Linked DNA regions of Homo sapiens. The protein of the gene in region 5 interacts with the protein of the main gene of each other region in a biochemical or structural test. Each region holds a gene or a part of one and is shown on either strand. Other genes may lie near its edges. The genes, in order: XKR7, SLC34A1, UQCRC2, RTKN, HTRA3, MARCHF3 and HTR2C.

Evidence for each region.
Region 1: the proteins of HTRA3 (region 5) and XKR7 interact in a test that uses a peptide from one of them, tested with the Homo sapiens proteins (one large-scale study listed by IntAct).
Region 2: the proteins of HTRA3 (region 5) and SLC34A1 interact in a test that uses a peptide from one of them, tested with the Homo sapiens proteins (one large-scale study listed by IntAct).
Region 3: the proteins of HTRA3 (region 5) and UQCRC2 interact in a test that uses a peptide from one of them, tested with the Homo sapiens proteins (one large-scale study listed by IntAct).
Region 4: the proteins of HTRA3 (region 5) and RTKN interact in a test that uses a peptide from one of them, tested with the Homo sapiens proteins (one large-scale study listed by IntAct).
Region 6: the proteins of HTRA3 (region 5) and MARCHF3 interact in a test that uses a peptide from one of them, tested with the Homo sapiens proteins (one large-scale study listed by IntAct).
Region 7: the proteins of HTRA3 (region 5) and HTR2C interact in a test that uses a peptide from one of them, tested with the Homo sapiens proteins (one large-scale study listed by IntAct).

What each region holds. Positions count from the first base shown.
Region 1 is NC_000020.11:31,966,972-31,970,950, forward strand, and holds the start of XKR7 (XK-related protein 7), read left to right. Parts: upstream 1-1,179; 5' UTR 1,180-1,204; coding exon 1,205-1,788; intron 1,789-3,979.
Region 2 is NC_000005.10:177,383,284-177,387,233, forward strand, and holds the start of SLC34A1 (sodium-dependent phosphate transport protein 2A), read left to right. Parts: upstream 1-1,150; 5' UTR 1,151-1,204; intron 1,205-2,411; 5' UTR 2,412-2,458; coding exon 2,459-2,567; intron 2,568-2,703; coding exon 2,704-2,853; intron 2,854-2,937; coding exon 2,938-3,066; intron 3,067-3,139; coding exon 3,140-3,283; intron 3,284-3,950.
Region 3 is NC_000016.10:21,956,361-21,959,860, forward strand, and holds part of UQCRC2 (cytochrome b-c1 complex subunit 2, mitochondrial precursor), read left to right. Parts: intron 1-874; coding exon 875-958; intron 959-1,056; coding exon 1,057-1,206; exon of another isoform or gene 1,207-1,224; coding exon of another isoform or gene 1,225-1,257; intron 1,258-2,174; coding exon 2,175-2,239; intron 2,240-3,500. UniProt on the Homo sapiens protein: Component of the ubiquinol-cytochrome c oxidoreductase, a multisubunit transmembrane complex that is part of the mitochondrial electron transport chain which drives oxidative phosphorylation.
Region 4 is NC_000002.12:74,431,938-74,435,437, reverse strand, and holds part of RTKN (rhotekin), read left to right. Parts: intron 1-2,771; coding exon 2,772-2,971; intron 2,972-3,500. UniProt on the Homo sapiens protein: Mediates Rho signaling to activate NF-kappa-B and may confer increased resistance to apoptosis to cells in gastric tumorigenesis. May play a novel role in the organization of septin structures.
Region 5 is NC_000004.12:8,279,754-8,283,253, reverse strand, and holds part of HTRA3 (serine protease HTRA3 isoform 1 precursor), read right to left. Parts: intron 818-3,500; coding exon 718-817; intron 1-717. UniProt on the Homo sapiens protein: Serine protease that cleaves beta-casein/CSN2 as well as several extracellular matrix (ECM) proteoglycans such as decorin/DCN, biglycan/BGN and fibronectin/FN1.
Region 6 is NC_000005.10:126,867,214-126,870,386, reverse strand, and holds the end of MARCHF3 (E3 ubiquitin-protein ligase MARCHF3), read left to right. Parts: 3' UTR 1-2,673; downstream 2,674-3,173. UniProt on the Homo sapiens protein: E3 ubiquitin-protein ligase which may be involved in endosomal trafficking. E3 ubiquitin ligases accept ubiquitin from an E2 ubiquitin-conjugating enzyme in the form of a thioester and then directly transfer the ubiquitin to targeted substrates.
Region 7 is NC_000023.11:114,849,586-114,853,085, reverse strand, and holds part of HTR2C (5-hydroxytryptamine receptor 2C isoform a precursor), read right to left. Parts: intron 1-3,500. UniProt on the Homo sapiens protein: G-protein coupled receptor for 5-hydroxytryptamine (serotonin).

The DNA.
Region 1 (3,979 bases), on a different chromosome or scaffold from region 5:
ATTGTAGTGTTTTGGACAGTGCCAGGCAAAGAGACACTACTATATGGATGTTTGTATAATAAATGCCTGGATACATCCAATCTGATCAAAGGCAGAGATGGGAAATGAGCTTGGGGTATCCAGGATGTGTGGGAACTCCACCCCCTCTCATAGGTTACTGCTATAATCTCCTTCTGGTCTCACCAGCCCCAGGCTGCTTCCTTGTGATCGCTTCTCTACTCTGGCTGCTGGGTCTTCTTTCTAAATCCTGATGTGACCACATAACTCCCCTGCTCAAATACTGCAGTGGTTCCCCATTGCCTGCTGGATAAAGGCCACCTTCTGGCCCCTTAGGATCTCATCCTCAGAACTCTGCAGCCCTATCTTCCCCATCTTTCTCCTCCCCTGGATCTGAGATCCAGACTTGCTTGAAGATATGCCCTCCAGTCTCAGGCCTCCAGGCCTTTGCACTTGCTCTTTCCTCCACCCGGTGTTTCCTCCCATCCCTTTCCTCTTGATGTTGGATGTTGTCCCCTTCCCTCCCCCTACTCTACTAGGGCTGTAGCCAGATGAAGGCAGTCCCCGAGAGAGGGAAAGCGGAGAGTAAGGAAGAGACAGCAACTCAGAGCTGCAGCTTTCTCAGCTTCAAAACGAAGACAATAAGAAAAGGGGACCCCTCAAGATCAAAGGAGGGGATGGAACAATATGTGAGCACTCAGGAAACTGGAAATGAGCGTTAGCATGGAGTGACTGCTAAAGGGTTACTGGGGGGCCCGCCCAAGTCCCCCAGCTCCTTTCTTCCAAGTCCCCCACCCACCCCCCCGTCAGACCCAGGCCACTGGAGGTGAACACAGGAGAAAAACGAAGTGGAGAGAATGGGAAGGGGGAGGCGATAAACAAAAAAGAAGGAAGTGCAGTCCGAGGGGAGATGAGAGACAGAAAGCATGGGGTTGGAGCCCCGCGCCTCCGAGGAAGGAGGGAGAGGGTGACCTGGGGTGCGCCCCGCCTCCCCTGCTTCCGCATTCCCGGGGGCTGCCCCCCCTTCGGCCGCAGCTCAGGCGGGTGGGGGCGGGGCGGGGCGGCGCCGAGGAGAATGAATAATTGAAGTGGAGGGGAGGAGGAAGAAGAGGAGAAGGAGGAAGAGGAGCCGCCCGCGCAGGGTCCTCCCCACGCCGCACCCCCCTCCGCCGCCCGGAAGTCGCTCCCCGCCTCCCTCTCCGCCAACATGGCCGCGAAGTCGGATGGAGCGGCGGCCTCGGCCAGCCCGGACCCGGAGGGGGCTGCCGGTGGAGCCCGGGGCAGTGCCGGCGGGCGCGGGGAGGCGGCGGCGGCGGCCGGGCCCCCGGGGGTCGTCGGGGCGGGCGGCCCGGGGCCGCGCTACGAGCTGCGGGACTGCTGCTGGGTGCTGTGCGCGCTGCTCGTGTTCTTCTCCGACGGTGCCACGGACCTGTGGCTGGCGGCCTCCTACTACCTGCAGAATCAACACACCTACTTCAGCCTCACCTTGCTGTTCGTGCTCCTGCCCTCGCTGGTCGTGCAGTTACTGAGCTTCCGCTGGTTCGTCTACGACTACTCGGAGCCCGCAGGGTCCCCGGGACCCGCCGTCAGCACCAAGGACAGCGTAGCCGGCGGAGCCGCCATCAGCACCAAGGACAGCGCCGGCGCCTTCCGGACCAAAGAAGGCAGCCCCGAGCCGGGTCCCCAGCCTGCGCCCTCCTCGGCCAGCGCCTACCGCCGCCGCTGCTGCCGCCTCTGCATCTGGCTGCTGCAGACCCTCGTCCACCTCCTGCAGCTCGGCCAGGTCTGGAGGTAGGAGAAGCGCAGGTGGAGGGACCTGAGCCCGAGGAGTGGGGGTGGCGAAGGGCTACCTGACGTCCCAGCCCTGATCTGACCTTTCCGGGCTACCCTCCTGTCCTGACCTCCCCCCCTCCCCACCCCATTGCAGCTCTAATTTCTTCTCAGTCGGCTTCTCCCTGACCTCTGCCCCCAAGCCCTGACCAACCCCAGTGCCATCCGGTCTGACCTGGCCTTCGAGAGGGGAGGGGATGGTTCAAGAAAGGAGAGAAAGAGATCCTCAGGGGTGTGCGTGAGTGGGGAGGACCCGGGGCTCATGAAGATAAATGTGAAGCTTAAAACAGGACCACAGGGCCCTATTCTGCCATAACCCACTCCTCTCTGCCTGAGTGCCAAGCCTGGGCTCAGGAAAGATCTCAGAAGTCCTTTCCTGCTCGCAAAGATCCTCAGTTCAGAATTGCAGCTCATTCACAACCTGCAAGGAGAGTCACAGAATTTGAGACAGCTAAATGAATATCCCGCCTAAACTTCTTGGACTTTTTGGAGAAAGATATGCTGGACCCAACTGGGGAGCCCTCAGGCTCCTTCTACTTCCTATGACCCCCTCTCCCCCAGCTAAGGGTCCTCCCCTTCCAACAGGGCCAAGGGGATTTGGAATCTTGAATCTGAGATTAGATGGCCACTGGCTGCCCTTTAATCCCGAACTGGTAAGGCAAAACTGAGGCTTTGTTCAAGCTGCCCACTTTCAGTCTTCTTCCTCTGCCAGAACTGAGGGTGCCTGCTGCACTGAGTTAAGTGGAGAGAGGAGGAATTCTAAACCTAGGGCTCCTCTTGAATCTGAATTGCTATTTAGTAGCTTAGGCCCTTCTGTGCTCTAACAGAATGAACTTGCTTACTATATGATCTTAGGCAAGCCGCCCTCCTCCTTCCAAGCCTCAGTTTCCTCTTCTGTGAAATGAGGGAGAATCCCTACTCCTCTTATCTCATTGTCTTATCATTGCATTATTCTTACCTGTTGGGATGGTCAGGTGAGAGGTCTGCATGAGGGCCCTGCAGACTGTAACATTTTAAGAGTGTGGGGAAAGCATGGAAAAAGTCACTCTAGAGATATAAAGGGTGATTACTGCTGTTGTTATATTTATTCTGCTACTTGTTAACACATTCTGCCTAACTCAGAAGATTCAGTTTGGGGCTGAGGGTTGAAAACAGGACTCCTAGGGTTTGTCCCAGCTGCTCACTTGCTGTGTCACTCTTGTTGTGTTGTCGAATCTCTCTGCCTTTGTTTCCCTATCTATTCCTGCCAAGATGATGTGTATATTCCACTTAGCTTATCCTGGAGGAAAAGGGGGCGGAGCTCTATCCACACAAGGTGGTGTTATTATTATTAGCGTGACACATAAAAATATTCATGTCTACATCCAGGAACTAATCTGCATTTATCATTCTGTGCCCGAGTGGACAGATGGTGAAAGATATTTTTAGATTCTGAAATGGTAACTTCCTATTCTTGGTAGGAAGCTTCATCCCCCTTTTCCTTCAGCCTAAAGTGGGCCAGATGCCCCTCGACTCACTGGCTATCCCCCCATTCAGAATCCACTTACAAGAAACTAATACTTCTCTTCTTTGTTAAGCATAAACTGAGTTTCCCTCAAATAGGGCAAAAATGGCCATGGGTGTGGGGTCCCAGGGGAGTAGCTAGAATTGCTAAGGATCCCCTCAGCTCTATGGTTTCTTGGATATGGATAAAAGGACTAGCTATTTCTACTATCTCCCATTTGCAAAATGAGGAGGCTGGGATGAGATAAGTTTGTAGGGATAACAATCTAATAGCTCTTAGGTTGAATGTGGCTTGTGGAAGTGTTTTGTGTGGCTTGCATAGTATTTTAAAAACCCAGAGTCGTAGCTTCCCTTTAAAAAAATTGGATCTAGCAGTATCAATCCTGTAACAATTTAGAAAGAGTCTATGTGCTCTAATTTGTCCATCTTTCCCTTTGATCATATCTGTACTATTTCACTTAGACATGAAAGCCCTAATTTACAGTTCTATAACAATTATTTTATTAAACACTGACTTTGTGCCAAGCCTACTGGTTGCCTTTTTACCTGCTTTATTTCCTGTACCCCTTCTAATCATCCTGTCATGTGGTTAGCATTATAATTTCTACTTGACAGATGAGGGAATGGAGGCTCAGAGAGGGGGCATCCT
Region 2 (3,950 bases), on a different chromosome or scaffold from region 5:
AAACTTCAAAAATATCAAAAAGCACAACCTTATTAAAAAGGAGAAACACCCCCAGTTCACCAGGAGCACCTTGGATTCAGCTGCTCCTGCCAAGGGTCTGAACTGCACGGGGGAATGGAGAGAAACAGGTCACGTGGGCCGGGGTCTCTGGGCCCGCTGTGGGGGTGTCAGTTTGCTCATAGGTGGAGACACTCGATGTGACATTAACAGCACCTTCAAGCCCAAGGACCCAGAGATTCTGACACAAGAACTGAGAACTGATTGCATTTCCGTGACTCAGCGACACCCTCCTACCTGGGCATGAACCCAGCCCTAGCCAAAGATCCAGAGACCCGACTCCCATCTATTTCCTTTTCCTCTCTCCCTCCCCGTCACCAATTCTACTGGTCAGATGTCCCTGGGATGCACCTGTCCTCCCCAGCCCCTCCGTTCCCATCGGAGTTCAGGCCTCATCATCTCCTGCCTGGACCATTAGCCTCTTAACTGGCCCCTCCGCTTCCAGGCTCCCTTCCATATATCCGGGTTCCACCCCGGGGGCCATTCTAAAAGGCAGATCAGGCCCATCCCAGTCTGGCCAGCGGCTCCACATTCACTCAGACTCACATCCTGGACCCATGGTCGGGCATTAGAGACCTGCCACGATTCAACATTCCACGGCCTTTCCAGCTTAGGTCCTCATCTCACACTCCCTCTCCTCTGAGCTCCCCCTGGGAGACTTACAGACACCCCGACGCTTGGCAAGGCCATAGGATGTTTTTGTTTGGTTTGGTTTGGTTTTTCTGAGACAGTCTCACTCTGTCACCCAGGCTGGAGTGCAGTGGCACGATCTTGGCTCACTGCAACCTCCGAAGGCCATAGGATGTTTGGGTCATTCCCTGGGGAGTCCTGTCAGGCCAGGAACGAGGGGACCCTGGGAACAAGGTGCTGAGTGGCATCAGGGTCTCTGCCTGCAGGCGGGGGATGTGTCTGGGTCGTGGTTGATGGGAAGAACCTGACCATAGATTCCCCATGCAGAGCTGACGATTAGCAATTAACTGGGAGGAATCTCAGGGGTGAGGTTAATTGGGGGACAGAGGGAGGGCAGCTAGGGTTCCAGGGACTTTGCCCTTGACCCAAGAGTATAAAGAGGAGGGTCTCAGTTCTCCTCAGGGTCCTGGAGGCTTCATTGAGCTGCTGAGCAGAAGCTGAAACACAGAATTCTAAGGTGAGCCCAGGACCCTCACATCCCAACCCCACCCCCAGCTCTGAGTAGGAAACAGCCCAGCACCCCAGCCCCTTCATCTGTGTCCTATCTGCGCCCACCCCCACCGCGCCCCATATAACATGTCAGTCCAGCCAATCGCGGTGGCTCCCACCTGTAATCCCAGCACTTTGGGAAGCCGAGTGGGCGGATCACCTGAGGTCGAGTTTGCACTAAAAATACAAAAAATTAGCCAGGTGTGGTGGCAGGCACCTGTAATCCCAGCTACTTGGGAGGCTGAGGCAGGAGAATCGCTTGAACCCACGAGGCAGAGGTTGCAGTGAGCCAAGATTGTGCCACTGCACTCCAGCCTGGGCGGTAAGAGTGAAACTCCATCTCAAAAAAAAAAAAAAAAAGGACTCCTGCTCCTTCAGGACTTGAATTCAACTCTTCACACCCCTACAACAGCCAAGGACGCTGGGACAATGCGGGGAGTGCTGAGGCAGATCAGGGCACTCCACCCCAATAGCCAAGACTCCTGGGGCAGTGCGGGGACAAGGGGGGGCTGAGGCAAGCCTGTCAGTGTTTGTTCATTGCCCCTTGAGGGGGTGGATGGGGAAAGGAATTCATTGTGAGGGGAACCCAGGAACTCGGGATCCGGCCCAGGGGATCTCCGTGTGTGCCCAGCTGACCCCATGAGAAGGCAGGTGTCTGCAGCTCCTCCTTGCTCTCCAGGTGGGCAAAACTGAAGCCCGGCCCAGCCCCAGCCCACACCTGCAGCCACTGCCAACACCACGTATTCCCTGGCCCCCTCCAGCCCCAAACAGGCTGGGCGTCCTCAGTTCTCAGTGTCTTTTATCAATGCTATATCCAAGCCTCTGGTTCGGAGCCTGGGCTAGAGCTCAATAATACTCATTGAATGAGTGAATGGTGAATGAATGATCACCTCACCACCACCACACACACCCCTCCGAGACTCACATGCAGGTGCCCAGCACAGATGTGCACATGTGAGTCTGCATGTGAGTCTCGGAGGGCTGTGGTGGTGATGATGGAGGGTGTGGTTTGCTGGGTGTGTGTTTGTGCGTGTGAGTCTCGGAGGGGTGTGTGTGTGTGGTGAGGATGGAGGGTGTGCTTTGCTAGGTGTGTATTTGGAATCATGCGCCATGGGGGTTTGTGCAGGTGAGGGTGTGTGGGCATGAGTGTCCCGGACACAGCTATTGTCATTCAGCGTTGCTGAGACCCACTGACCTGCAGACCTCATAGTGGGTGCCCAGGATGTTGTCCTACGGAGAGAGGCTGGGGTCCCCTGCTGTCTCCCCACTCCCAGTCCGTGGGGGGCATGTGATGCGAGGGACGGCCTTTGCCTACGTGCCCAGCCCTCAGGGTAAGTGCTGCTCCCACACCCTGGACCCTGGTTGCCCACGGTTGCCCACATCCCGGATGAGGCCACTTCCCCCGCCTGTTCCTCCCCGCCTCCCCACTTTGGGGCCCTGGGGCTCCTGACCAGGCTCCCTCCCTAGTCCTACACAGGATCCCGGGGACCTCTGCCTATGCCTTCCCCAGCCTGGGCCCTGTGGCCCTTGCTGAGCACACCTGCCCCTGTGGGGAGGTCCTGGAGCGCCATGAACCACTGCCTGCCAAGCTGGCCCTGGAGGAGGAGCAGAAGCCAGGTGGGCCTGGGCTGGGGGTGGCAGAGGCGGCAGCAGTCCCTGCCCTGGCCTCTGCCCACTATGCTCATGGCTTCCCCCATCCAGAGTCCAGGCTGGTCCCCAAGCTGCGCCAGGCTGGCGCCATGCTGCTCAAGGTGCCACTGATGCTCACCTTCCTCTACCTCTTCGTCTGCTCCCTGGACATGCTCAGCTCGGCCTTCCAGCTGGCTGGAGGTAGGGCCCGGGTGGAGGAGACCTGGGAGGGGTTCCTGAAGGGCCTTGGACAACGCTGGCTCATGCTCCCCAGGGAAGGTGGCTGGTGACATCTTCAAGGATAACGCCATCCTGTCCAACCCGGTGGCCGGGCTGGTGGTGGGGATCCTGGTGACCGTGCTGGTGCAGAGCTCCAGCACCTCCACATCCATCATCGTCAGCATGGTCTCCTCTGGCTGTGAGTTGGCCCACCAGGGTGGGGAAGAGCTTGGAGGGGCACCCCAGGAGCTGGGAAGGGTGGCAAATGGGGAGCGTGACCCCAGTAAGGCTGGCCTCCATTCAGCTTGACTCCTGTATCAGCCAGGGACATGAGAGGAGCCCAACTGTAGCTGTATGTGACCCAGATGATTTATGGCAAGGAACTGGCTTCCCCGATGGTAGTTTGTCTGGGCAAGTCAGGAATCCGTAGGCCAGGGCATTGGAAGGGCAGGCGGGAACTCTCAGGTGGGCGCCGACACTGCAGTCCAGACAGGGCAGCGTTTCTCCTTTCTCAGGGAAGCCTCAGTTCTGCTTGAGGCCTTTCATTCTATTGGATTAGGCTGACCCAGGTTACCAAGGATAATCTCCTTTTCTTAAAGTCAGCTGACTGTAGACGTGAATTGCATCTACAAAACACCTTACAGAACACCCAGGCTAGTGTTGGGTTGAATAACTGGGTACCACAGCCTAGCTAAGTTGACACATAAAACTAACCATCACTGGCCGGGCGCAGTGGCTCATGCCTGTAATCCCAGCACTTTGGGAGGCTGAGGGGGGCAGATCACGAGGTCAGTAGATCGAGACCACCCTGGCTAACACGGTGAAACCCTGTCTCTACTAAAAATACAAAAAAAAAAAACAACAAA
Region 3 (3,500 bases), on a different chromosome or scaffold from region 5:
GGGTGAAACGCCATCTCTACTAAAATACAAAAAATTAGCCAGGCGTGGCAGCATGTACCTGTAATCCCAGCTACTTGGGAGGCTGAGACAGGAGAATCGCTTGAATCCAGGAGGCAGACATTGCAATGACCCGAGATCGCACTGTTGCACTCCAGCGTGGGACACAGAGCACGACTCCAACTCAACAAAAAAGGTTGTGGATGGGGTGATCTGACACTTTTTCAAAAAATGCCAAAGCTTTAGAACTACACAGAACCATGAAACTTTTATAAGGTAACTGAAAGATAAGAAAATACAGTGATTCTTTACATCATTTAAAAAATAAGCATCAAGAACTCTATAAATCACTAATAAATAGAGGTTTAAGAATGGCTTGGGTAAACTGGTGGGTTAGTAAGTCCATAATAAGTTATGCAGCTAGGCGGGGTGCAGTGGCTCACGCCTGTAATTCCAACACTTTGGGAGACCAAGGTGGGCAGATCACTTAAGATCAGGAGTTCAAGACCAGCTTGGCCAACACAGTGAAACCCCATCTCTACTAAAAAATACAAAACAAAAACTAGCTGGACATGGTGGCACGCACCTGTAATTCCAGCTATTTGGGAGGCTAAGGCAGGAGAATGGCTTGAACCCAGGAGGTAGAGGTTGCAGTGAGCTGAGATTGCGCCACTGCACTCCAGCCTGAGCGACAGAGAGACACTCTGTCTCAAAAAAAAAAAAAAAATGTTATGCAGGTAAATCCTCCCATGGAGGTGGTTATTGCTCCTTCCACCCCCGAACACCCTCTGTCGCTTGGGTACCCTAAGATACCATGCTTTTATATAAAGCACTGTTCTTGTGAGAAATACGTGTAACCTGTGTTTTTTATGTTTAGAGATTTTATTCCCTCAAAGTTGCCCCCAAAGTTAAAGCCACAGCTGCGCCTGCAGGAGCACCGCCACAACCTCAGGACCTTGAGGTTAGTCCCACTAACTTGCTCGCTGGAAGCTATACATGCCTTACTCTCCTTGGTAATACGAAGACATTCATTATATCTCTACTTTATTTTAAATACAGTTTACCAAGTTACCAAATGGCTTGGTGATTGCTTCTTTGGAAAACTATTCTCCTGTATCAAGAATTGGTTTGTTCATTAAAGCAGGCAGTAGATATGAGGACTTCAGCAATTTAGGAACCACCCATTTGCTGCGTCTTACATCCAGTCTGGTGAGTATCTTCACTTCCTCAAGTGTTTGGAAATGCTGTGGTATCTTGGTCCTGTGAAAAAGAAAAACTAAGATCAATGTCTTTATATTTTGATTCCTTGACCTGCCATAACAAATTACCACGGACTGGGTAGCTTAAACCAAATAAGTTTATCCTGTTACAGTTCTAGAGGCTAGAAGTCCAAGTCAAGGTGTCTAAGCCAAGCCAAGATATCAGCAGGGCTGTGATCCCTCTAAAGGTTCTAGGAAGGCACAAATCCTCCCCTGCCTGTTCCTAGCTTCCAGCAGTTGCCCACAACCCTTCATGTTCCTTGACCTGCAACTGCATCACTGCAGTCTCTGCCTTTGTTGTCACATGGCCTTCCTTCTGTCTGTGTCCACATTTCCTCCTGATAAGGATACCAGTTACATTAGATTTAGTGCCCACTATAATTCAATATGATGTCATCTTAAGTACTTAAATCTGCAGAGACCTTATTACCAAATAAAGTAACATGCAAATATTCTGGCTGGACATAAATTTGGGGGGGAACACTGTTAAACCCAGTACTGTCCCCTAATGTAAAATGAGAAACCACAAGATATTTGCCACAGAGAAGCACTAAATTAGTATCCATATGAATGTTGATGTTAGAGCATAAGAAATCAGTAAACAAATTTTTAACAGGAAGTGCCGCAAATTGAAAGAAAATTAACTCTTTTTTTCCCATATACAAGTCTCTTTCAGAATAGACTAATGAATCCAGTAAGCTTGTATTTGACAGTGGAAATTTTACATGAATGTACTTAATGTAAAAATGTATACTTAAGCTTTTTGTTGAGCCTTGTTTTATAATTCTTAACTAAAAAGGATGCAGGAATTTAGTAAAATTCTTTTTAAATCTGCTCACAACAGATTTTGATATAGTGTGATGTTTGGCAAACTTGGCATTGAAAAGCTACAAAGATAATCATTCTTTCTTTTTCAAGACGACAAAAGGAGCTTCATCTTTCAAGATAACCCGTGGAATTGAAGCAGTTGGTGGCAAATTAAGGTTTGTTAAATAAGTAATAGAAAATAGTGAAAATGCCAGAAAATATTCAATTTTAAGGGAACTTTTCTCTGTTATCAAGGAGGTTGAGGATTTCTTAAGCAACATAAGAAGGAAAAGACTGATGAATTTGAGTATATCAAACTGTAAAACATCTTTATGTCTTAAAGTAAAAATTTAAGTAACTGTCTGGGAGTAGATATCTGCAATATATAGGCATACCTCAGAGATGTTGCAGGTTCTGTTCCAGACCACCACAATGAAGGGAATATTGCAGCAAAGCAAGTCATAGGAATTTTGTGGTTTCCCAGTGCATATAAAAGTTATGTTTACACTATACTGTGGTCTACTAAGTGTACAATGACATTTTGTCTTGGAAAAAAAGTACATAACCTTAATTTTAAAATATTTTATTGCTTTAAAAATGTTAACAGTTATCTGAATCTTCAGCAAGTCATAATCTTTGCTGGTGGAGGGTCTTGCCTCCACGTTAATGGCTGATGACTGATCAAGGTGGTGGTTGCTGAAGGTGGTGGTGACTGATAATTTCTTAAAATCAGACAACAGTGAAGTTTGCTGCATTGATTGACTCTTCCTTTTGTGAAAGACTTCTCTGTAGCATGAGATGTTGTTTTTAGCCGTTTACCCACAGAACTTCTTTCAAAATTAGTCAGTCATCTCAAACCTTACCACTTTTTTATCAACCAAGATTATGTAATATTCTTTTTTATCATTTCGACAGTGTTCACAGCATCTTCAACCAGGAGCAGATTCTATCTCAAGAAACCACTTTGTTTGCTCATCCATAAGAAGCATCTCCTCATCTGTTCAAGCTTTATCATAAGATTGCAGCCATTCAGTCACATCTTCAGGCCCCACTTCTAGTTCTCTTGCTACTCCCACCATAGTTGCAGTTTCTTCCCCCTCTGAAGTCTTGCCTCTCAGAGTCATCCATAAGGGTTGGAATTGGCTTCTTCCAAACTCACGTTAATGTTGATACTTTGACATCCTCCCATGAGTCACAAATGTTCTTAATGGTGTCTAGAATGGTGAATTCTTTCCAGAAAGTTTTTTAATTTACTTTGCCCAGATCCATCAGCGTCTTCACTATCTGTGGTAGCTGTAGCCTTACAAAATGTATTTCTTAAATAATAAGACTTGAAAATAAAAATTACTCCTTGATCCATGGGGTGCAGAAGGGATGTTCTATTAGCAGGCATGAAAACAGTGTCAATCTCCTTGTACATCTGCATCAGAGCTCTTG
Region 4 (3,500 bases), on a different chromosome or scaffold from region 5:
CAAAGTATAGCGTCATTAAAATAAGCATCCCTGCCATTAATGTATACCACATGCTGGGCACTGTGCTAAGTGCTTTAAGTTCCTGCCTCACAGAATTCTCACAGCCCTAGGACTATTTCCATTCCTGATTTACAGATGGGGAAACTGAGGCTTAGGGAGGTTGAGCAAATTGCCCATTGCTTTTTAAGAAGCAGGACCTCCAGGGCTCCTTTCTAAATGAATGTTCCTGAGAATCCTGGTGTCTCTTCCAGGGCCTCTCAGCTGGCCCTTATCCACAGTCCCTCATTCCTGGACCACCTACCTTCCCATCCCCATTCCTTGCCTCTGACCTCATCTCCCAAGCTCAGAGGGCCGGTAGGTGGTGATTCTCTTAATTTGGGGTGTATAGGTTTCTGTGCAGCGTCAGTGAACACTGTAGGTGGTATGCTCCTTGTCCACTGATCCCTTGCCAACTAGATGTCCCTGGCATCACTTGAGTCTGAGGGATAACTCTCATTTGCCTTTCCTTCTGTCCATTCCCATGAGTTGGTGGTTCTCAACCTGGGTGTACCTCAGAATCACTTGGGGAGTTTTCCAAAAGTACATATGCCCCACTCCTAGAGATTCTTATTCTGCAAATCTTAGGTAGGGCCTGATCATTTTTTTTTAAACTCCAAAGATCTAATATTTTTTAAAGGAAATACAATTTCCAGTAGTACAAAGGGTATATATAAAGTATCATTAGGCTGGGCGCAGTGGCTCAAGCCTGTAATCCCGCACTTTGGGAGGCCGAGGTGGGAGGATCACTTGAGGCCAGGAGTTCGAGACTAGTCTGGCCAACATGGCGAAACCCTGTCTCTACTAAGAATACAAAAGTTAGGCCAGGCATGGTGTCTCACACCTGCAATCCCAGCACTTTGGGAGGCCAAGGCGGGTGGATCACCTGAGGTCGGGAGTTTGAGACCAGCCTGGCCAACATGGTGCAACCCCGTCTCTACTAAAAATACAAAAATTAGCTGGGTGTGGTGGCTCACACCTGTAATCCCAGCTACTCCGGAGGCTAGGCAGAAGAATTGCTTGAACCTGGGAGGCGGAGTTTGCAGTGAGCCGAGATCATGCCACTTCACTCCAGCCTGGGCAACAGAGTAAGACTCGGTCTCAAAAAAAAAAAAAAAAAAGAATACAAAACTTACTCGGGCGTGGTGGCACATGCCTGTAATCTCAGCTACTCAGGAGGCTGAGGCACAAGAATCACTTGAACCTGGAAGGTGGAAGTTGCAGTGAGCTGAGATCGCGCCACTGTACTCCAGCTTGGGTGACAGAGTGAGACTCGGTCTCAAAAAAAAAAAAGTATCATAAATGTTTTCCATCCCTGGCTCCCAGGCCTACAATCACTAATATTTTATGCATAAACATGCATATCTATATCTATGTATATATATGCATGCATACATATATATATATCATGCACAAATGGTAGTATGTGCAATACTACCCTTCTTTTCTCACATCATTTATTTTGGAGATTGTTTCATATCTGCATACATGTGCATATCTCTTTCCTTAATGTCTGCAATACTACAGGGTACAGATGTACTGTTACTTATTTAACCAATGTCCTACTGAAGGGGTTTTAATTTTGGTGTTTAAAACAATGCCACAATGAGGCCGGGCGCGGTGGCTCACGCCTGTAATCCCAGCACTTTGGGAGGCCGAGGTGGGCGGATCACAAGGTCAGGAGATCGAGACCATCCCGGTTAACACTGTGAAACCCCGTCTCTACTAAAAATACAAAAAAACAATTAGCCGGATGTGGTGGCGGGCGCCTGTAGTCCCAGCTACTTGGGAGGCTGAGGCAGGAGAATGGCATGAACCCCAGGAGGTGGAGCTTGCAGTGAACTGAGATCGTACCACTGCACTCCAGCTTGGGCAACAGAGCGAGACTCCGTCTCAAAAAAAAAAAAAAATGCCGCACTGAATATTTTTGTATGTATGGCTTTACCTAGATATATGTGAAATTATATGTGTAAGATAAACTGCTAGGTATTGGATAGCTGAATTAAAGGATATATGAATTTGTAGTTTTCATAGATTTTTTTCCAAATTGCACTCAAAAGAGGCTGAAGGAATTTATACTTCCAACCATCAAATGCATGAGGGCATCTCTATTTTTCTTATTTGTTTTATATATATATATATATGTTTTTTTTTTTTTTGAGCCAGAGTCTTGCTCTGTCGTCCAGGCTGGGGTGCAGTGGTGCAGTCTCGGCTCACTGCAAGCTCCGCCTCCCGGGTTCATGCCATTCTCCTGCCTCAGCCTCCCAAGTAGCTGGGACTACAGGCGCCCGCCACCACGCCCTGCTAATTTTTTGTATTTTTAGTAGAGACGGGGTTTCACCGTGTTAGCCGGGATGGTCTCGATCTCCTGGCCTTGTGATCCGCCTGCCTCTGCCTCCCAAAGTGCTGGGATTACAGGCGTGAGCCACCGTGCCCGGCTGTTATATATTTTTTTAGAGGTGGGGTCTCACTATGTTGCCCAGGCTGGCCTTGATCTCCTAGGCTCAAGGGATCCTCCCACCTCAGCCTCCCTCACACACCACTGCACCTGGCTACAAAGCTTCTCTGGTTATTCGTGGGCAGCTGAGATTGAGACCCAATGCCTGCTCTTGAACTGCCTAAAACATTAGTTTCTTGTCAGTTTTACTGGCCACAGCCCACCTGGGGACTGGGGAGTGCTTTAGCCTGTCCACTGACTGACATTTCCTTCTCACCCTTCCCCCAACCCTGGCTAGGACACGGAGTTGCAGAGGAAGCTAGACCATGAGATCCGGATGAGGGAAGGGGCCTGTAAGCTGCTGGCAGCCTGCTCCCAGCGAGAGCAGGCTCTGGAGGCCACCAAGAGCCTGCTAGTGTGCAACAGCCGCATCCTCAGCTACATGGGCGAGCTGCAGCGGCGCAAGGAGGCGCAGGTGCTGGGGAAGACAAGCCGGCGGTGAGCAAGGGGGAGACGAGGCCTCGATGGAGGCAGGAGGCCTTCTGGGTGGTGGTGGTGCAGCATGTGCGTGTGTGGCATGTGGACCACCTTAAAGATGACTTCCCCATGAAGTCTTATCAGGGACCTGGGAGAGACCTTGGTGTTTTACCACCACTGTGTGTTGCCCAGAGGCGCATTTGTGAGTAGCCAGGGCAGGACTTAGAAAAGTCGGTGTGTCTGGTGAAAGGTAGCTGATCTGAAGGGTAGCAAGTAATGCAAAAGCACTAATTTGCTAAGCCCTGTCTGTGATCCAGTAAGACTGGCTATCTGGCTTTTGGAAAATTAATTTCCTCAACGCTGGTTCACAAAATCACCAATTTACCACATACTGACAATAGTTTGTTATATCTGGGGTTCACCTTCAGAGGCAGGGAGTGGGAAAGGAAATAAGAAACCACTTAAGGAAAGCCTACCCATTCAAACAAATTAGATTGTGCATTCTAAAAGGGCTCAGCTTCTGGATGTAAAATGTAAGCAACACTGACAT
Region 5 (3,500 bases):
CCCGCTTCCCTATTGACCGACTCCACTCATTCATTCATTCTTTTACTCATCCATTGGACACTCACTCATTCCCTCCCTCACTCATTCATTCTGCCACTTCCTTCACTAACTCATTCCTCCCCTCACTCATCCATGCACTGATTCGTGCGTTCACTCACCCATCCCTCATTCCTCCCCGCTCCGGCCACACGGGCCTCGGTGCTTGCGAGCTGCCCCCACTGCCCTGCATCCACTGGCCCAGCTCCCGGGGTGCCTACTTCAGGCTTAGCTTGTGAGGCCTCCCGAGCCCCCGGTTCCCACTGCCCCGAGCCCTGCTCTCTGCCTGCCATGCCTCTGCTCCTTGCACACACACCTGCTGTCTCCTGGCATCTCCTCCGCTGGGTTCTGTCTGTGTCTGCTTTACTGCACGGCCCCTCAGGACGACCAACACATTGCATGTATCCAATAGCATGGGCAGCAGCATGAAGGGACAAAGACCCACAGCTGTGCACCTTCTTGGTGCCTACAGCTCCAGCAGGTGCGGAGTCACTTCAGCGGGGATGTCCTTCCCCAGGGGCACACAGGCAGCCAGCAGATGTGACTGAGGTCAGCCTGACCCCAGGCCACTCCAGTTTCTGTGGCCCAGGCTGCAGAATCAAGCCTGGTTTGGGCCCCAGCAGCTGGCGGGTGTACCAGGGGACACCAGGAGGCAGAGAGGGGCGAGGGGTATTCACCCACCTCAGGAAGAGCTCTATGTGGACCACGGCTGGTGCGATCTTCTCCACCACGTCAGCAATGAAGTTGAACTTGTAGCGCGGGCTGCTCAGCTGGTGGAGACCTGCGCTGGCGGGAAGGGCCAGGTGCATCAGTGAGATCACGATGCTGCCAGCTCCCAGAGGCCTATGCCCAGTGGGCAGAAGGAGGAGGCTCTTCCTGAGACCCCTGTCCCAGTTCAGAGCCAGCCTCAGCCCACACTGAGCCCGTTGGGGACCCCCTACCACACAGCAGTGCAGTGACACCAGGCATTTGGGAAGGGGCTCGCTCACCCCGAGAATGGTTAAAAAGGCTTCCACGTGCTGGGCTTCCTCACCCCCCTCACTGGACCCTGCTAGGCTGGGCAGGAGGCTCAGAGAGAGGTTAGGATATTGCCGTGAGCCACACGGGAGTGAGGCCAGGGCTGGATCTCGGGTTAGTCCCCCTGGGCCTTGTCTGTTCCCTCATGCTACAGCAATACCCTTACAGGAGAGAACTGGCCCTCTCCTCATGGGCTCCAGCTGGTCCCTCCGAGCCCTGGGGCTACAGCAGTGTCCAGGCGGGGGTGTAGTGGAAGACCCCCAGGTGACCCTTCTGAGCTACCCAGGCCCGGACACAGTGTGGCCCCTCTGGGCCAAAAGAGCTGCCAATTTCTGAGTCCACAGGGCCCTACATCTGTGTCTAACTTGGCCACACCCCAGCCCGACTTGCTAGATGGTTCACGAACTTCCCTGGACCCTTCCCGGGCTCAGATTCCTGCTGCCGTCAGCAGTAGGGGCTGTGGCTGCCAGGACCACAGGCCTGAGGCATGCAGTGGCACGGGGCCCACAGCCCTCGGGGTTCCCTGCACGGGCCTGTGCCGGGCTCTCTCCAGTTCCCACCATCTGGAACACATGCTGCTCAGCCTCGCTCGTGGCTCCCGAGCCCCGCAATGAGCAACTGGGCTGGGGGCTGCACACACCAGGGGTTCGGCTGGGCCTGGCTGCTTTCTAGCTGTGTGGCCTCAGACAGATTACTTACGTTCTCTGGGCCTCAACTCCTCATCTGAAAAATGGGACTGAATATGCCCTCCTACCACATCTGTGGGAACTGAGTGTGGAGGACTGCAAACTTCGAGTCCCTGCCCGGGGGGCTACCCACCCACCCAGCCACCTTGGCAATGGGGAGCAAAGAGGGCTCAGTCCATAACGTCCAGCTTTCCAGCTTTGCAGCCCACATTTCTCTTGATCTCTGGGAAGTGGCCGGGCATGGGGACCGAGGGAAAATCTGGTTTTCTGGATCGTCCAAAGGCACGAAGGTACCATGGTGGATGCCACTGTGGGGGCAGGGCCCGGGCCGCGGTCCGTGCTCTAGGAATCATCACAGGGCAAACACAATCCCCAGGCACATCCCAATTCATTCACCCAACTCTCCAGGGGCAGCCAGGGGAAGGAAACTTTTCCTCTATTTTAAAGGTGGGGACACTGAGGCTCTGTAAGAAGAACCCCCCTGCCCAAGGACTCACGGCTGGGAGGGGAGAACCAGGATCTGAACGCAGGCCGCAGGCCTCCTTTCCCTGGGTGCCCCCACCTCTGCCCTGCAGCTCCCCAAGGCCCTGAAGAGCCCTTTAGCCTGAGCTGGGACCTAGGGGGTTGGCTCGAGCTCTGGTGTTGGGTCTCCCAGACTTCCGATGTCTGCCTCTCAACCGGCCCGCAGGCACCAACCACACCAGCCCTCGTCCACTTCAGTCAGCCTGAATCAAAGGCCACCTGTCTGGGGTGGCTAGAGCCTGGCTGGGAGACGCCGGCCACCGCGAGGCTCCTCATAGATCAAACCACTGCGGCAGAGCGGGGTCTCAGGTTCAGAGGTCACATTAACAAACACCCCAGGGGCAGGGCCTGCTGTGGGCCCAGGGCTCTCTCTGCCCACGTTTGCTTCCATGAGGGATGCGCTGCCCTGCTCGACACCTACAAAGCAGGCGGCTCCCTTGGTGAGGTGAAGCTGCCGTGCGGCCCGAGTGGGCAGCCCAGGCCTGTCTGCTTCTCCTCCCTGCCCCTGGGAACTTGAGTTCATTTTCTAGCACCCAAGTAGAGAGGAAGGACACCAGCCACAAAGCCTGCTTCCCTGGTGAGGTTTGGAGCTGGTTCAGAGCTCTCACAAGATGCGCTCAGACCCACAATTTCCACGACCCAGAGGGATCCCAGGGCAACCCCCAGGCCCAGGCCCTCCTCCCTCCAGGAGGGAGGACTCAGCCGGTCTGCTGCTCCCCTGTGTGCCCTGGGGCCTGAGGCTGGCGCCCCATGTGCCTCGCCTGAGGAGAAGCGCCAGGGCACGGGCACAGCCCCCAGGTGGGACCATATTACCTCTCCTACCGTGTGGCCTTTGTCGGGCCACCAACTCCAGTTTCTGCTCATCATCCACCTCTCTACACCTCCCCCTGCACGACCTCTCTCTACTCTCCCTACCAAGATGCTCTGGTTGGTCCTGGGCCCGGCCCTAATCCTGCCTCCTCCAGGCAGCCCCGCAGCAGCCCCAGTTGTACCGAATCTGCCGCTGCTCACAGCCTTATTCAAGCCACTCGTGCAGGGTGCCTCCTGTGTGCCCACCTGTGACAGCTGCTGGAGACACAGTGGTTCAGCTGGGGGCAAGGGTCAAGTCAGTGACCGACCAGAGACAGCACAGCATCACCAGGGATGAGGCAGAGAGGAGCCCGGCGTGGGGTGGGTGAGTGCAGAGGTGCCCTGACCCAGGCCTGGAAGAGCCCACGGGCAGGGGCACAGCACATGGAA
Region 6 (3,173 bases), on a different chromosome or scaffold from region 5:
GATACTGTATGGAATTTTCTGAACACCTCTTTAACGTATGAGGAAGGTTGTCCTGCTACGGATGCAATTCAATTCTTCCTTTTTTATTACTATTTCAAACACACACACATATATATATATATTAAACTTAGATGATAATCAAAATCAAAAAGTCAACGTAAAAACTGGTTTCTTGGTTTGGTTGGGTCTTATTTGAGTTAGTTTGTTTCTCAGTTTCTCGTATGGATTCTTTGGGGTACTTTGGTAGCCTGAGTGGTCTTTTTCATCTCTTTCGCGTCCATTACTCAAGGAGACAGCATAACAGATGCAGAACAAGTCATATTTGAAGAATGTTTTGTACTAAACTTCATTTAATTATTCAGTTTTTAAAGGGAAAAAGGGCGTGAGCTCACACAGTGAGCTGTTTATTTAAATATCATTAAGGAGAAAAAAAAATATGGTGAGAAGCTCGCTCCTTTCAACTTGTTTGGTACTGACAGCTGATAGAAGCTATTTTCTAATAATAAACATCCAGTGTGTGAAAGACAAAACCCACTGATTGCAATACTCTTTTTTTAATGATAAAACCTGTGAAGTTTCCCAAAGCAGGTTTTAAAAGGAAAAAAAGGAAAAGCAAAAAGGTTGCTGTTCTCACTCCCATCTCATTTAGTGCATGTCTTAATTCGGGATTCGTAATGAATTGGAGGATCATTAGACATTTCTAGGAACCCTAGACCTGTTTTGCATGTCAATTAGCATTCCCATTGCTCTATTGAATTTCTAGCTTGACAGGTAGATGTGGCAAAAAAAAAAAAAAAAAAAAAAGCCTGTCCTAGCAGCCCTGCACTTATTCTAAGACCCCTTTGTCTGATTCTTTAAAAAGGAGCCCCACACAGTGCCTTCCCCCAACCATGAGCCAATTCTGTCACAGTCCGAAATAGACTTTTTCTAAGGGTTTCGTGTCCCTCTTTTATCCGTCGCAGTGTAAAGGGTCTGATCCGCAGCCTGCATTGTGCGCGCACCGAGGCAGGAGCGGATGTCTTCTGAGGAGAGCGCTGGCTGGGGTTGACTCTCAGGCTCCCGGCTGTCCGCCCGCCCACACGCAGCGAGGAGGGGCGGAGCCCTGCTTCCGGAATGCTTAAAATATGGAATTCTAGAACATGACCCACATTCTGAGTATCACTCCAGCATCTGCCTTGTGTTCCAAGTGGGAAAACGAGAAGTGCAAAGGAACAGGCAGCGAGGAGGGTAGCGATTTTTGTCTGCAAATTGATGGAGCTGATGCAGGTGTCCCCTTTGTAGGCGAGCCCTCCATTCACTGGCTGCTCCCAGCGCTGCCTGGGGAGGGAAACAGCTGTACTGCTCTCCGCTGCAAAACTCAGATGTGCTTTATGGCTTGTGACAATAGATTTCCTCCCCACCACGCTTCACTGGGACACTTCAATTCCAGTAATATATGTCTCAGCCCTTCTGTTTACTGCGCCCTGCTCACCCCCCTGGGCTGTCATTAGCTGCACCACCATCAACCGTTTCTTAATTGACCTTTTTAAAATGCTGGACATCACCGGCTGCACGCAGCTGCCACACATTAAATTTCCAGAGCAAAGAGTCCAACTTGGTAGCTGGTGAATTGCAGCCCTGTAATATACTTAATAAATGACGTCCACCCAGCCTTAGTCCCTGAGCTGTCAGGTGAACCCGTGACACGTCTCAACTGAATGGCACAACATTCATGAGAGGACCATACCCCTTCTCCCTGTTTCTTGCATGAATTAAGGAAGCAGCGGATTTCCAGGATGATTTCCTGTCAAGGTTGGCTGCAGAGAATTCCTGCCATCTTGGTTCATGAGATGAGATATGACATCATCAAAGGCAGCCAGGTCCCAGGCCGTTCAATGGGGATCCTGCATTAGGAAGGGTTTGCACATTAAAACTGTGCCTGTGCCACACCTCTTTCCTTCGTGTTTGCATCCCTGCCCTGTGAAGTAAAACAGAGTCCAAGATGCAAGGAGTAGATTGTGTGTGGGGTGGTGAAAGGACACCCCTGGCAGCCAGGCAGAGCATCAGTGCCTCCCTTCCCAGGTCACCAGCTTGGGACCTCCTTGTGAGAGGCTCTGATCTCCATCAGCATCAGGGCCCATAGGGGATTCTGAACTCTTGGAGGATATTTCATCCCCTCCAAGCCTTGCCCCATGGAAAGGGCTACACCTCCTGCAGGAAGGGGTGCCTTTTGTTAACAGGTATTAATGGGTACAGAGGCACCATGCAGCCTACCAGCACCCTTGCTAGCCTAGTCCTCTTCCTGTGCTTCTTTTTGAAAGATCAAGAATGAAGAGGAAGAGATGAGGAGTGGGGGTCCTTTACCTAAAGGACCCTCGTGGTTCATTGCTTCTCTTTAACTGACTTTTTAAAAAAACTCCCTCTTCCACACTCCTTGCTGTGATTCTGTCCTAATCATTTTTCTTGAGAATGTCATGTAGAGATAAATGTGTGTCACAGTGAAGCCAGAAGGTGAATTAACAACTAAGACAAATCCAGCATGCTCTTGCCTGCCCTGCATATGTGCTCATTTGGGGAAGGACGGAGGACACAGAGCATCGACACAAATTCTACAGCTCCTCAGAGAACACAGCAGAGACTCAGATGAGCTGTAAAATCCATTAAGGAAAAATAAATGGCATGATTTGGAAGTTACTTTGATTTGTCTTTCATTGTCCTAGTCTCCCCTGCCCCTAGTGCCTGGGCCCTGCCGTGGATTGTCACTTTCAGTGGGGCTGTAGCCATAGGCATTTCATTTTCAGTGAAAATAATTCATCTGCGGCATGGAGGAGCCAAAGGAGAAAATGGAGGTGAAATCGCAGCCCAAGTGACCCCACAGTTGGGCAAGCAGCCAGCTTCCGGTTCCACTTCCTCCTAGATCCTTATTGTTCCCATTGGGACACTGACCCTGGCTGGGCTCTGGGTCTGCGCCTGCACCGTGCATCTTTCTCCCATATTGGAATCCGCTCAGCCTTGCCTGACACTCCACACAGCTTATGGAGCTGTCCACACTAGGAAATGACCCATGGCCCAAAGAACCTGAGTAGGAAAGACAGCTAGAAAATGAAATCAGGAAATGCTTCCTTTCCACTTCAATCCAGAGTGTTCCTAGAAGCTGCCTGAAGATCTGCCACACAACTTGTAGTCCCTAGTGC
Region 7 (3,500 bases), on a different chromosome or scaffold from region 5:
GATTTGCAAAATCTAAAAAGTTTGAAAATAAACTTCATTAGCAAGGCTTTGGGGAAACAGAGGCTTTCTTGCATTGCTGGTGGGAATGCAAAATGGTTCAACTCCTAACTACATGTACCCTTTGATCAATCAACTCCTCCTCTAAGAATTTATTTAGAAGATAAATTCTGAATACATTTGAGCAAGAATTTATTTAAAAGTTAAACTTCCAATAATATGAAACACACACATGCACGCGCGCGCGCACACAAACACACAAGACAGACACACATGCACGCACGCACACACAAAGGACACACACACACACACACACACACACACAATTATTCTTAGTAGAATTATTGGCAACTTCCAAATGTTGGAAACAACTTACCTGATTATACACAGAAGATTGGTTAAATAAAGTATATCAACACAATCTATTATTAGTGAGTGTAAAAAATAATAGAATGAATTTAGCTTTTAATTGGAGTATTTAGGCCATTTACATGATAAAGTTGGGTGCATATCTATCATCTTACAAATTGATAGAGTGATTTCCAGGACATATTTCCAAGTAAAAGAACAAAGCAAAACAAAGTATTAATTTGTATGTAGCATTTTAACTTTTAATTTAAGAATGGAAAAATAACAATACGTGTATTTGTGTATAATCTTTTTTTTTTTTGCAAAAATAAATTCAAGAAGTATGCCCTAGAAACTAATGAATGGGTTAACCACGGAATAGAAGAGGAACTGACTCTTCTCTGAGTATTTTATTTGCCTAGTTTTGACTGTTGGAGCATCATATTAAAGTTTTACATATTAAAAAATAAAGTCAACAAGGTTGGGGAATACATGCAAAAACAAAACAAAATCCCTAAATGTGAACAATTGGTATCAGAACCACAGAGAAAAAAAATTCAAACTAATCCTAGCATTTTGAAGACAATGCTTTGACTATATGCCATTGGTGGAAAACATTCTAAAGATAAAATTGCAATGAAATTTTAAACATTGCATTTCATTTATTGGTAGTGGTATGGGTATAGAAATTCTGAAATTAATTTCTTGTATGGTAGGATATAGAAAATATAAATAATAAATATATCAATGGTTTGGGGACAAAGTTACTCACTGTGAGAAAAATGAGGAAAAATAAAGAATTGGAAAGTAGCAAGAGTCCTGTGTTCGTGAATTGGGATTAAAGGTATTGATATATAGGAGCAATGATATCCTATTAGCAATGAGCATACTGAGCTTCTGCATCCTGCTTTATAAAACCATTGCCCACTAAAAGGGTTTCTTGTAAGAAATGGCTAATTTCGGAACTGGGGCATGGAAAGTAAAAGGTGAGTCTGGCAAATGCTCAAAAGCTGATGGGATATATGAAAAGGAGTTCTTATTAGAAAAATATGAGACAATTTGAGCATCAAAATAATTAAGGGCAATAATGAATCATATATATTACACTGAATACAAAAGAATCCAGGAGTCTCCACCAACATGAACTAATAAATAACAAAGACTTGGAGGGAAAACACTTCCTTACAGTATAATACCAACAAATAAAGGCAGGAAGAATAATAAAATGAGAAAAATTATCATTGTATCACCTTAGTAATAGATAGCTTAGGGAAGAATCATCAATGGATTTGAAATCCATTAGGTCAAAGTTTATTGGGAAACAATTTCTTAATTTCCAAATATACGAAGGTTTTTCTACTATTTTGAAGTCATTTCTATTTCTTTTGAATTTCAGTCAAAGAATAAACAATTTATTCCAACCCTTTGGAATGTGTTGAGGAATTACTTTATGGTCAGTTTTGATAAATATTTCTTGTGCAATGATGGGAATATGTATTCTTCACTTGTCAGTGAGTTCAGGTTTGTTAATTGTTTTCATACAATCGCTGAGAAGGATGTGCTAAGATCTTATGCGATGATTGTAGACTTGTCTATCTGTCCCTGAAGTTCTGTCCTCTTTTACTTTATAATGTATATACTATGTATATTACATATGTATCTACATATAATTATGTACATACAAATTTATTACCTTATGTCTTCCAGATGTATTAAATCTTTCATAGTAAGTAATCTTCTTTCACTGGAGTATTTGTTTTTTGCCGAAAAGTCTATTTTGACAAATATTAATATAGCTATACAGTCTTTCTCTTGGATAGTGTTTAGATGGAGGAATTTTTTTGTTTGTTTTTATCCTTTTACTTTCTTTATGCTTTATATATGCCTCTTGTAACATATAGTTGTCTTATTTTTTTGAAAGCCTATATGACAGTCTTAGAATCCTTAGTAATTCATATAATTAGGGATATATTTGGTTTTAATTCTGCCATTCAGTATACGTTTTATATTTTTCTATCTTTTATTGACTCCTTTTGGATTTATCTTATTATTTCATTTTATCTTTTATTTGTAGAGACAAAGTGTTGCTTTCTCATCAAGGCTGAAGTGTCATAGCACGATCATAGCTCACTGCAACCTCAAGACACTTGAGTTCAAGTGATGCTCCTGCCTCAACCTTCTGAGTAGCTAGGGCTACAGGCACATGCCACCATACCCAGCTAATTTTTAATATTTTATAATAATCTTCTGTAAATTTGGAAATTCGCCATCTCTAATCTGCCACAGAGTTCTTAGGTTTTCATTTTTTAATTAATTAATTTTTTTTGTGTGTGTGACAGAGTCTCACTCTGTTGCCCAGGCTGGAGCGCAGTGGCATGATCTCAGCTCACTGCAGACTTGACCTCTGAGGGTCAAGTGATCCTCCCACCACAGCCTCCCAAGTAGCTGGGATTACAGGCGTGTGCTACCATACCTGGCTAATTTTTGTATTTTTAGTAGAGATGGGGTTTCATCATGTTGTCCAGGCTAGTCTTGAACTCCTGGCCACAAGTGATCCGCCTGCATCGGCCTCCCAAAGTGCTGGAATTACAGGTGTAAGACACTGCCTGGCCCTTAGTTTTTCATATTATGCTTAAGTTCCATATTTTCTAGGTGTTTCTCAAATCTTAATGTCATTTGTTATAGTTTGCAGTTTCTTGCTGAAGTGTTTAAGATCAGCATGTAATTTCCATGTGCACATTCCAAATGATTATTTAAAGTGTATGTCTGATAATTCAATTATCTGAAGTGTTTGTAAGTTTATTTCTGTTATCTCTTATTGTCCCATACCTGATTCATGTTGTATTGTCTCCTCATATATCTGCATATCATTGTATTTCAGTGACAGCATTTGAAAATTATTGAAAGAAATAAGTTGAAATCTAGGATTATGGGGTTTTTTTTGTTTGTTTATGCCCCAAAATTGGAAACCTGAATAATACGAAATCATCTTAATCCAATTTTAAGGCCCAAGATTTCTCTCATTTACATAGATGACTTGAACCAGGGCTGAATTCCATGTCTATGGTGATTTAATCCTGGTCGATCCTTATTCCTAGTGTCTGGTTTTTTTGTGATCCCAGAATTAAATTCAGGTTGGTTGGCCCTTGCCAGAC